Homo sapiens: one gene and its partner. The protein of the gene in region 1 purifies or fractionates together with the protein of each later gene. This does not show direct contact. Each region holds a gene or a part of one and is shown on either strand. Other genes may lie near its edges.

The links.
Region 2: the proteins of PRKG1 (region 1) and ZKSCAN1 purify together in Homo sapiens (affinity purification with mass spectrometry; 2 studies listed by BioGRID and IntAct, with this or other methods). This does not show direct contact.

Annotation. Positions count from the first base shown.
Region 1 is NC_000010.11:52,288,168-52,292,058, reverse strand, and holds part of PRKG1 (cGMP-dependent protein kinase 1), read right to left. Parts: intron 3,334-3,891; coding exon 3,211-3,333; intron 3,129-3,210; coding exon 3,066-3,128; intron 1,836-3,065; coding exon 1,769-1,835; intron 1-1,768. UniProt on the Homo sapiens protein: Serine/threonine protein kinase that acts as a key mediator of the nitric oxide (NO)/cGMP signaling pathway. GMP binding activates PRKG1, which phosphorylates serines and threonines on many cellular proteins.
Region 2 is NC_000007.14:100,021,956-100,025,846, reverse strand, and holds part of ZKSCAN1 (zinc finger protein with KRAB and SCAN domains 1), read right to left. Parts: intron 2,953-3,891; exon of another isoform or gene 2,793-2,952; intron 2,429-2,792; 5' UTR 2,341-2,428; coding exon 1,915-2,340; intron 1,694-1,914; coding exon 1,540-1,693; intron 1-1,539. UniProt on the Homo sapiens protein: May be involved in transcriptional regulation.

The sequences.
Region 1 (3,891 bases):
AAGACATTTATGCAGCCAAAAAACACATGAAAAAATACTCATCATCACTGGATCACTGGCCATCAGAGAAATGCAAATCAACACAACAATGAGATACCATCTCACACCAGTTAGAATGGCGATCATTAAAAAGTCAGGAAACAACAGGTGCTGGAGAGGATGTGGAGAAATAGGAACACTTTTACACTGTTGGTGGGACTGTAAACTAGTTAAACCATTGTGGAAGTCAGTGTGGCGATTCCTCAGGGATCTAGAACTAGAAATACCATTTGACCCAGCCATCCCATTACTGGGTATATACCCAAATGACTATAAATCATGCTGCTATAAAGACACATGCACACGTATGTTTATTGCGGCACTATTCACAATAGCAAAGACTTGGAACTAACCCAAATGTCCAAGAATGATAGACTGGATTAAGAAAATGTGGCACGTATACACCATGGAATACTATGCAGCCATAAAAATGATGAGTTCATGTCCTTTGTAGGGACGTGGATGAAATTGGAAATCATTTCTCAGTAAACTATCGCAAGAACAAAAAACCAAACACCGCATATTCTCACTCATAGGTGGGAACTGAACAATGAGAACACATGAACACAGGAAGGGGACCATCACACTCTGGGGACTGTTGTGGGGTGGGGGGAGGGGGGAGGGATAGCTTTAGGAGATACACCTAATGCTAAATGACAAGTTAATGGGTGCAGCACACCAGCATGGCACATGTATACATATGTAACTAACCTGCACATTGTGCACATGTACCCTAAAACTTAAAGTATAATAATAATAAAAAAATAAAAAAATAAAAAAATAAAAGAGTGATCACGTAGGCCCAGCGCGGTGCTCACGTCTGTAATCCCAACCCTTGGGAGGCCGAGGTGGGAGGATCACTTGAGGTCAGGAATTCAAGACCAGCCTGGCCAACATGGTGAAACTGTGTCTCTACTAAAAATACCAAAATTAGCTGGGAGTGGTGGCACTTGCCTACAATCCCAGCTACTCAGGAGACTGAGGCAGGAGAATTGCTTGAACCTGGGATGCAGGGGTTGCAGTAAGCCGAGATCACGCCACTGCATTCCAGCCTGGGTGACAGATTAAGACTCCATCTCAAAAAAAAAATTAAAAAAAAAAAAAAAAAAGAGTGATCATGTAAAGACTCTTTGAAAAAGTGTTATTTTATTTCTTTTTTTAGAGACAGGGTCTTTCCACTCTGTCACCCAAGCTGAAGTATAGTGGTACAATCACAGCTCACTGTAAGCTCAAATTCCTGGGCTCAAGTGATCCTCCTGCTCCAGACTTTTGAGTAGTTAGGACTATAGGTGCACATCAGCACACCTGGCTAGTATTTTCTTTTCTTTTTTTGTAGAGACAGAGTCTCACTATGTTGTCCAGGCTGGCTGGTCTTGAACTCTTGAACTCCTGGCCTCAAGTGATCCTCTCACCTATATATTTTTGTCTGCATTTCTATATTTTGAACATTTCCCATGCTAAAAATTAACTTATGTTCATAAATGAGGGAAACTTGAATCAAATGAATAGTTAAAAAAGAGAAGAGTAAAACACATTTACAGTGACTATCCCCAAATTTATCTGCTTTCAAGTTTGGATTTTAGAATATGTCATTATTTTAATGTGACATTTTTCCTAGAGTTTGTTTAACTTAATCATAGGATTAAACTTTAAAAATAACAGATCATTGTTGACTGACATAAACACCATCAATTATGTCACACAATTATAAGCTGGAAAGTCTACTTACACTTGGTATTATAGGAGGTGTCAAGGTACCTTTTCTTAAGCCTTCCCAGTTAAAGCCCTCAAACCATCTAGAAAAGGAAAAAACGTTGATAAAAACATTTTGTGTCAGCTAAAAGCTTCTCATTGCAGTGTATACAATGTCCATGGCTAATGGGAAGCAGTTAGGCAAACATTTTCATGTGACAAAAATGTTTTCTATTTAATTGCATATGTTTTCCTAATAGTTTATTTTATGAAATACATATTTTTAAAAGTATAACTGTCAAATTTTAAACACCAATTAACATGCAACACTTATTCCTTGTAATTCAGTCATAATGTCTCTATGACCTTGTTCCTACACTATAATTAAAATTTAATACATGTCATAATGTGTCTGGCCCTGTGCCTTACAGGATATTTTATTTTAAGGAGGTAGAACCAGGGCATGAAAAGTCAGGATAGAAAATTAACTTTCCATTTTTGCCACTGATTCAGTGCACAGTGTCAGCTAATTAACCTTTTCACATCATTGTCATAGTCTCTACATGTCCCATTTTCTTCTTTTTTTCCCTTTTTTAATGAAGAATAAAGATATTTTGTGTACAGTTTTTCTGTGAAAATAAGAACCAAAAAAGACTAAAGTTTTTGCTTGTTTGTTTTCTTTTGTCTTTGAAGGGTTTCAGCATTAGCAAATGCTTACAACAAATTCTTAGCAGGCTTTTCAGATATTCAGAGATATTTTAGTAAACATGTTTCTTTGATAAGGATGTGAATTTCCTGTCAGTGTTACACAAACAAATAGAGAAAACCCAATTAGTTTAGCTTTAGAACATCCAATCAACATAGGGAAGGTCTGATATTTAAGATGTTGCTATTGTTTAAAAAACACTGTATTCTGTACTTATGTTTTTCTCCTGTTATAACATCTAATTAGGAAATGCTTGGAAAAATATATTTTGTCTTTAGGAAATCAGGTAAGATACAGTAGGGGACTTTTATTTGTAATTCTGTGGTAGAGAATAGAATCCCCAAATTTAAAATACACATTTCCCCTTTGTGCCAGAGGGGAAAAAAATGCTAGTTGGTATGAGTTGTAAGAAACTGAGTTCAGCTTCTTATGTTACAGGGTTGTCAGATAAATATAAATAAGGTTTCATAATCACAACTAGAAAGGCATTTAAAAGCCTTACTAGTTTATACGCTGTCTTTGGATGTTCCTATAGGCTAATTATACTAGTTTTACACCAATAACTTAAAAAGCAACACCCTGGGGAAATGATGTCACGTGTTCAGAACTCTGCAGAAAGAACACTTACTTGTGCTTTTGAATGTCTTTTACTCCATTTTTCAAATTCCCTAATCTTTCTGATGGATTGTCCCTAAAAATAAAATAATGGTTTTATTAAATCTAATTTTTTCACATTATGATGTTTTCAAAAATAATGTGGTTGAAATACTTACCTGCATAGTTTTTTAATTAAATTAGCAGCATTTTTGGCAATCTTCTTTGGAAATTCTATCATGTCAATCCCCCTCAATATGATGTTATAGGTTTTCATAGGATCTGGGCCTGAGAAAGGTGGGCTGCAAGAATGAGAGACACGACAAGAGATATTACTTTTATTTTCTACATGAGAACACTTGAATTGCTATAAACTCCACAGATGACATCAATTCATATTTGGGGGCTTAGATTAATAGTGACAATGGAATGAAAATAGATTAATAGCAAAACAGTGTGGAAGCCCTTCCAAGTAAATCACTTAGTGAAACCAGAAATGGGTCAAGTTTATCTGCTCTTCTCTTGCTTTCTTTTAAGTGCTGGAGTCTAAGCCCTCATGCTGTCCTTGGTCATTCAAGATGCTTCTTCTACTCTCTGACCTTTTCCACACTTACTGACTCATTGATTATACTTGAGATGAAGTCCAAAATCATTAGGAGGGGCCGCAGGAACACCAACGATACTACCCCACCTCATGCCATTACCACCCTCACTCACTGGGATCCAGAAACAATAGCCTTCTCTCTGTTCCACTGAAATGCCGAGCACTTTCCTACCTCATGGTGTTACTTATTTGGTCTGGAAGGTTCTTCCCATACTTATCTGGCCAATGCCTCACTTTATCAAGTTTCAGTATAAGT
Region 2 (3,891 bases), on another chromosome or scaffold:
CCCAAAGTGCTGGGATTACAGGCGTGAGCCACTGTGCCTGGGCTAAAAATCTTTTATACTCTGTTTTTACTTTTTCGATGTTTAGATACACAAATACTTACCACTGTGTTACAATTCCCTACAGTGTTTAGTACAGTAACATACTGTACAGCTTTGTAGCGTAGGTGTGGAGAAGGCTAGACCATCTAGGTTTGTATAAGTATACTTTATGATGTTCGCACAACAAAATCACTTAACATTGCACTTACCATAACTTATCCCTGCCATTAAGTGATAAATGTACTTTTAGCATTCCTTGTCTTTACATTCTAAGCACATACTTTGATTTTAAAACTGGATAAATGTATTACATATTTCCGTCAAAAGAGAAAAAACAAGTAACATGACTTTTTATTTATATGACTGTGAACTGATCTTTTTTCGTGTTCCTCAACTCCCCTCAAAAGTTCTTCCATTCTTTTCCCATTGTTTGAAATTTCTGAAAATAACCTAGAAAAGACTGATGCTATAGTTTTTTTTTTTTTTTTTGGAAACAGACTCTCTGTCACCCAGGCTGCAGTGCAGTGATTATTTTTATATATTTTAAATAAAATGGACCTTTAAAAAAGATTTATGATCCTTTTGAAGATAATTCATGACATACTAAAATGTTTTAAAACCTAGGCTGAAAATAATGACATCTGTTCCCAATACTTTCCTATTAAAAATGTGCTGGACATCTGGAATGCTGATAATTCAATAAATAATGCCTACCAGGTTCATTACGCATAGTTCATTTGCCTTCGTAGTAACATTTAACTCCTGAGATTGGTCTGTAAGTTGTATTTTCCCCAATATTTGGTAATAATGACAACAATGTAGAATAACTAAAAACAAAAAACAAGCATGCAGCTTTTTTTCATTTTTTTTTAAATTTTTAATTAATTCTTTTTTTTTTTTTTTTTTTTTTAAGACAGTCTCGCTCTGTCACCAAGGCTAGAGCACAGTGGTACGATCTCGGCTTACTGCAACCTCCACCTCCTGGGTTCAAGTGATTCTCCTGCCTCAGCCTCCCGAGTAGCTGGGATTACAGGAATGTGCCACCATGCCTGGCTAATTTTCATATTTTTAGTAGAGACAAGGTTTCACCATGTTGGCCAGGCTGGTCTCAAACTCCTGACCTCAAGTGATCTGCCCGCCTCAGCCTCCCAAAGTGCTGGGATTACAGGTGTGAGCTACCGTGCCGAGCCTAATTCTTTTCTGTAAGTAGCTTTTGAGACAGGGTCCTTGCTGTGTTGCCCAGGTTGGAGTAGTGGCATGATTACAGCTCACTGCAGCCTCAACCTCCTGGGCTCAAGCAATCCTCCCACCTCAGCCTCCTGCGTAGCTGGAATCACAGGTGTGCGCCACTATACCTGGCTAATTTTTCTATTTTTTGTAGAGATGGGGTCTCGCTACGTTGCCCAGGACTAACATGCTTCTTCATCACAGGCACTCAGCAGCACAAAGACTCTCGTCCTGAATCATTTCCCTTCCCCTAAATGAAACCTTGCTTCTTACCTCGTGACTGTAAGAGGCGGGGTTTCCGAGACGAATGTTTGAAGTGGGACTGGGTGGCCTCGTGATGAAGGTCAAAGCTCGAGGACTCCTGAACTGGATCCAGAGGCACCATCCCCCTTGCGAGCATCTCAGGTCCATGAACTTGACCTGGGACCTGAAGACAGACAGGTTGGGCTTGTGGGTAAATCACTTTGTAAATGGGAATTAAAATATTTAAAAACAGACCATGAGTATGCCAGTGGATGCAGGAAGAAAGCCAGAACATTTTTAAGACAGAGTAACCACCTAATAACCTAAAGCCTGCCAATACTTCTCCTGGCTCCAGTTTCAACGTCTGTGCCCTGCTCACACATAATAGGTTTCACCTCTTTTTACCTGTTGTCCTGATAAATCAAGCTCCAAGTCTTCTAGAAGGGTCACGGCCTCCTCTCCACTATCGGGGCGGTATTCCTGCAGCCAGACCTGGAGCTCCTTGGGCAGGATGGAAAGAAACTGCTCTAGCACCAGAAGCTCCAGGATCTGTTCCTTGGTGTTTATTTCTGGCCGCAGCCACTGATGACAAAGTTCCTTCAGCCGACTGAGAGCCTCTCGGGGCCCAAAAGTGTTCTGGTAACAGAAGCGCCTGAAGCGTTGGCGGAATATCTCTGGGTCTGGAGGAGGCGTGTCCTGTAGGGTGGAATCCTGCCCCCACATGTGGTCTTCCTCATCTTCCTCTTCCACCTTCACTATTACGATACCATCCTTCTCCTGTGCAGCCTGTGGGGACAGACCCGTGGCTTCCCGTGATTCAGCAGTCATCATTCAGGCTCCAGGAACTGACTTGATCCAAACAGGGTCTGTGCTCACCTTTATGTCCTGGGAGGTTTTATGATGTGTTTCTTTACTATTCCTGAAGTATAAAAAAAAAGTCATTAGTACGTACCTTTACAAAAAGTGATCTGTGCTGCTAACACTTTATAGGAGGCAGCACATCGAGGCACTATCAGAACGCTCCTGAGGCCGGGGGTGGTGGCTCACGCCTGTAATCTCAGCACTTTGGGAGGCCGAGGCAGGCCAATCGCCTGCGGTCAGGAGTTCAAGACCAGCCTGGCCAACATGGTGAAACCCCGTCTCTACTAAAAATACAAAAGTCAGCAGGGCATGGTGGCAGGCGCCTGTAATCCCAGCTACTCGGAAAGCTGAGGCAGGAGAAACGCTTGAACCCAGGAGGTGGAGGTTGTAGTGAGCCGAGATTACGCCACTGCACTTCCTACCTGGGAGACAAGAAGTTAAACTCCGTCAAAAAAAAAAAAATCCTGACAAATCGAGGAAAAAACTGTACAATCTCCACTGTCACTTCATATATCAAGATTTGCAAACAGAAACCTCAAACAGGCCGACTCCACCCTCAGGGTGTTTGCTTGGAGTCAGAGTGATTTACCTGCAGGTTGACAGCAGGTTACGAAATGGAGCATTAACAGTGCCCAGCCCAGAGAGCTGAATGTTAGCAGAGTGCCAGGTGCCAGGCTTAAAGCAGTACACGCACCATCTTCTTTTGTCCCTACAACAGCCCTAGCAGGTCGGCCAAACTGTTAAGTGCTGTTTTACAAATGACATAACTGAGGGTTAGGTTTGCTCAGTAGTAGGTGGCTGCCTACTGGAGTCAATATTCAACCAAATTTGAAGCCCTGGGACCTACTTTTGTACCATCCAGCTACTTTTGCTATTTTTATGAGTGACTTGGGCAGTTAAATTGTGGTTTCCAAAGTACAAGATGATCCGCAAAGGATACAGAAAGAAAATAATTGGAATGTCTGTATCTTAAAAGAGAGAGAAATTAAGCTATAAATTGACACTAATACACTTACTTAGTCTGTGCTGACCTGTCACAGGTGTTGTTCATTTTAGACATTGTGATGTAGACTGGTTTATCTGAGACCAGTTATGTGAAATAATGGATTTCTAAATCTAGCTTTGGCTGGGCGCAGTGGCTCATGCCTATAATCCCAAAACTTTGGGAGGCCAAGGCGTGCGGATCACGAGGTCAGGAGATCGGGACCATCCTGGTCAACATGGTGAAACCCTGTCTCTACTAAAAATAGAAAAATTAGCTGGGCGCGGTGGCGGGCACCTGTAGTCCCAGCTACTTGGGAGGCTGAGGAAGGAGAATCACTTGAACCCAGGAGGCGGAGGTTGCAGTGAGCCGAGATCGCGCCACTGCACTCCATCCTGGCCACAGAGCGAGACTCTGTCATAAAAGAGACAAGCAGCTTTAAAGATTCTTGTGGCCAGATATGGTAGCTCATGCCTATAATTCCAGCCCTTTGGGAGGATGAGGCAGGAGGATGCTTGAAGCCAGAAGTTTGAGACCAG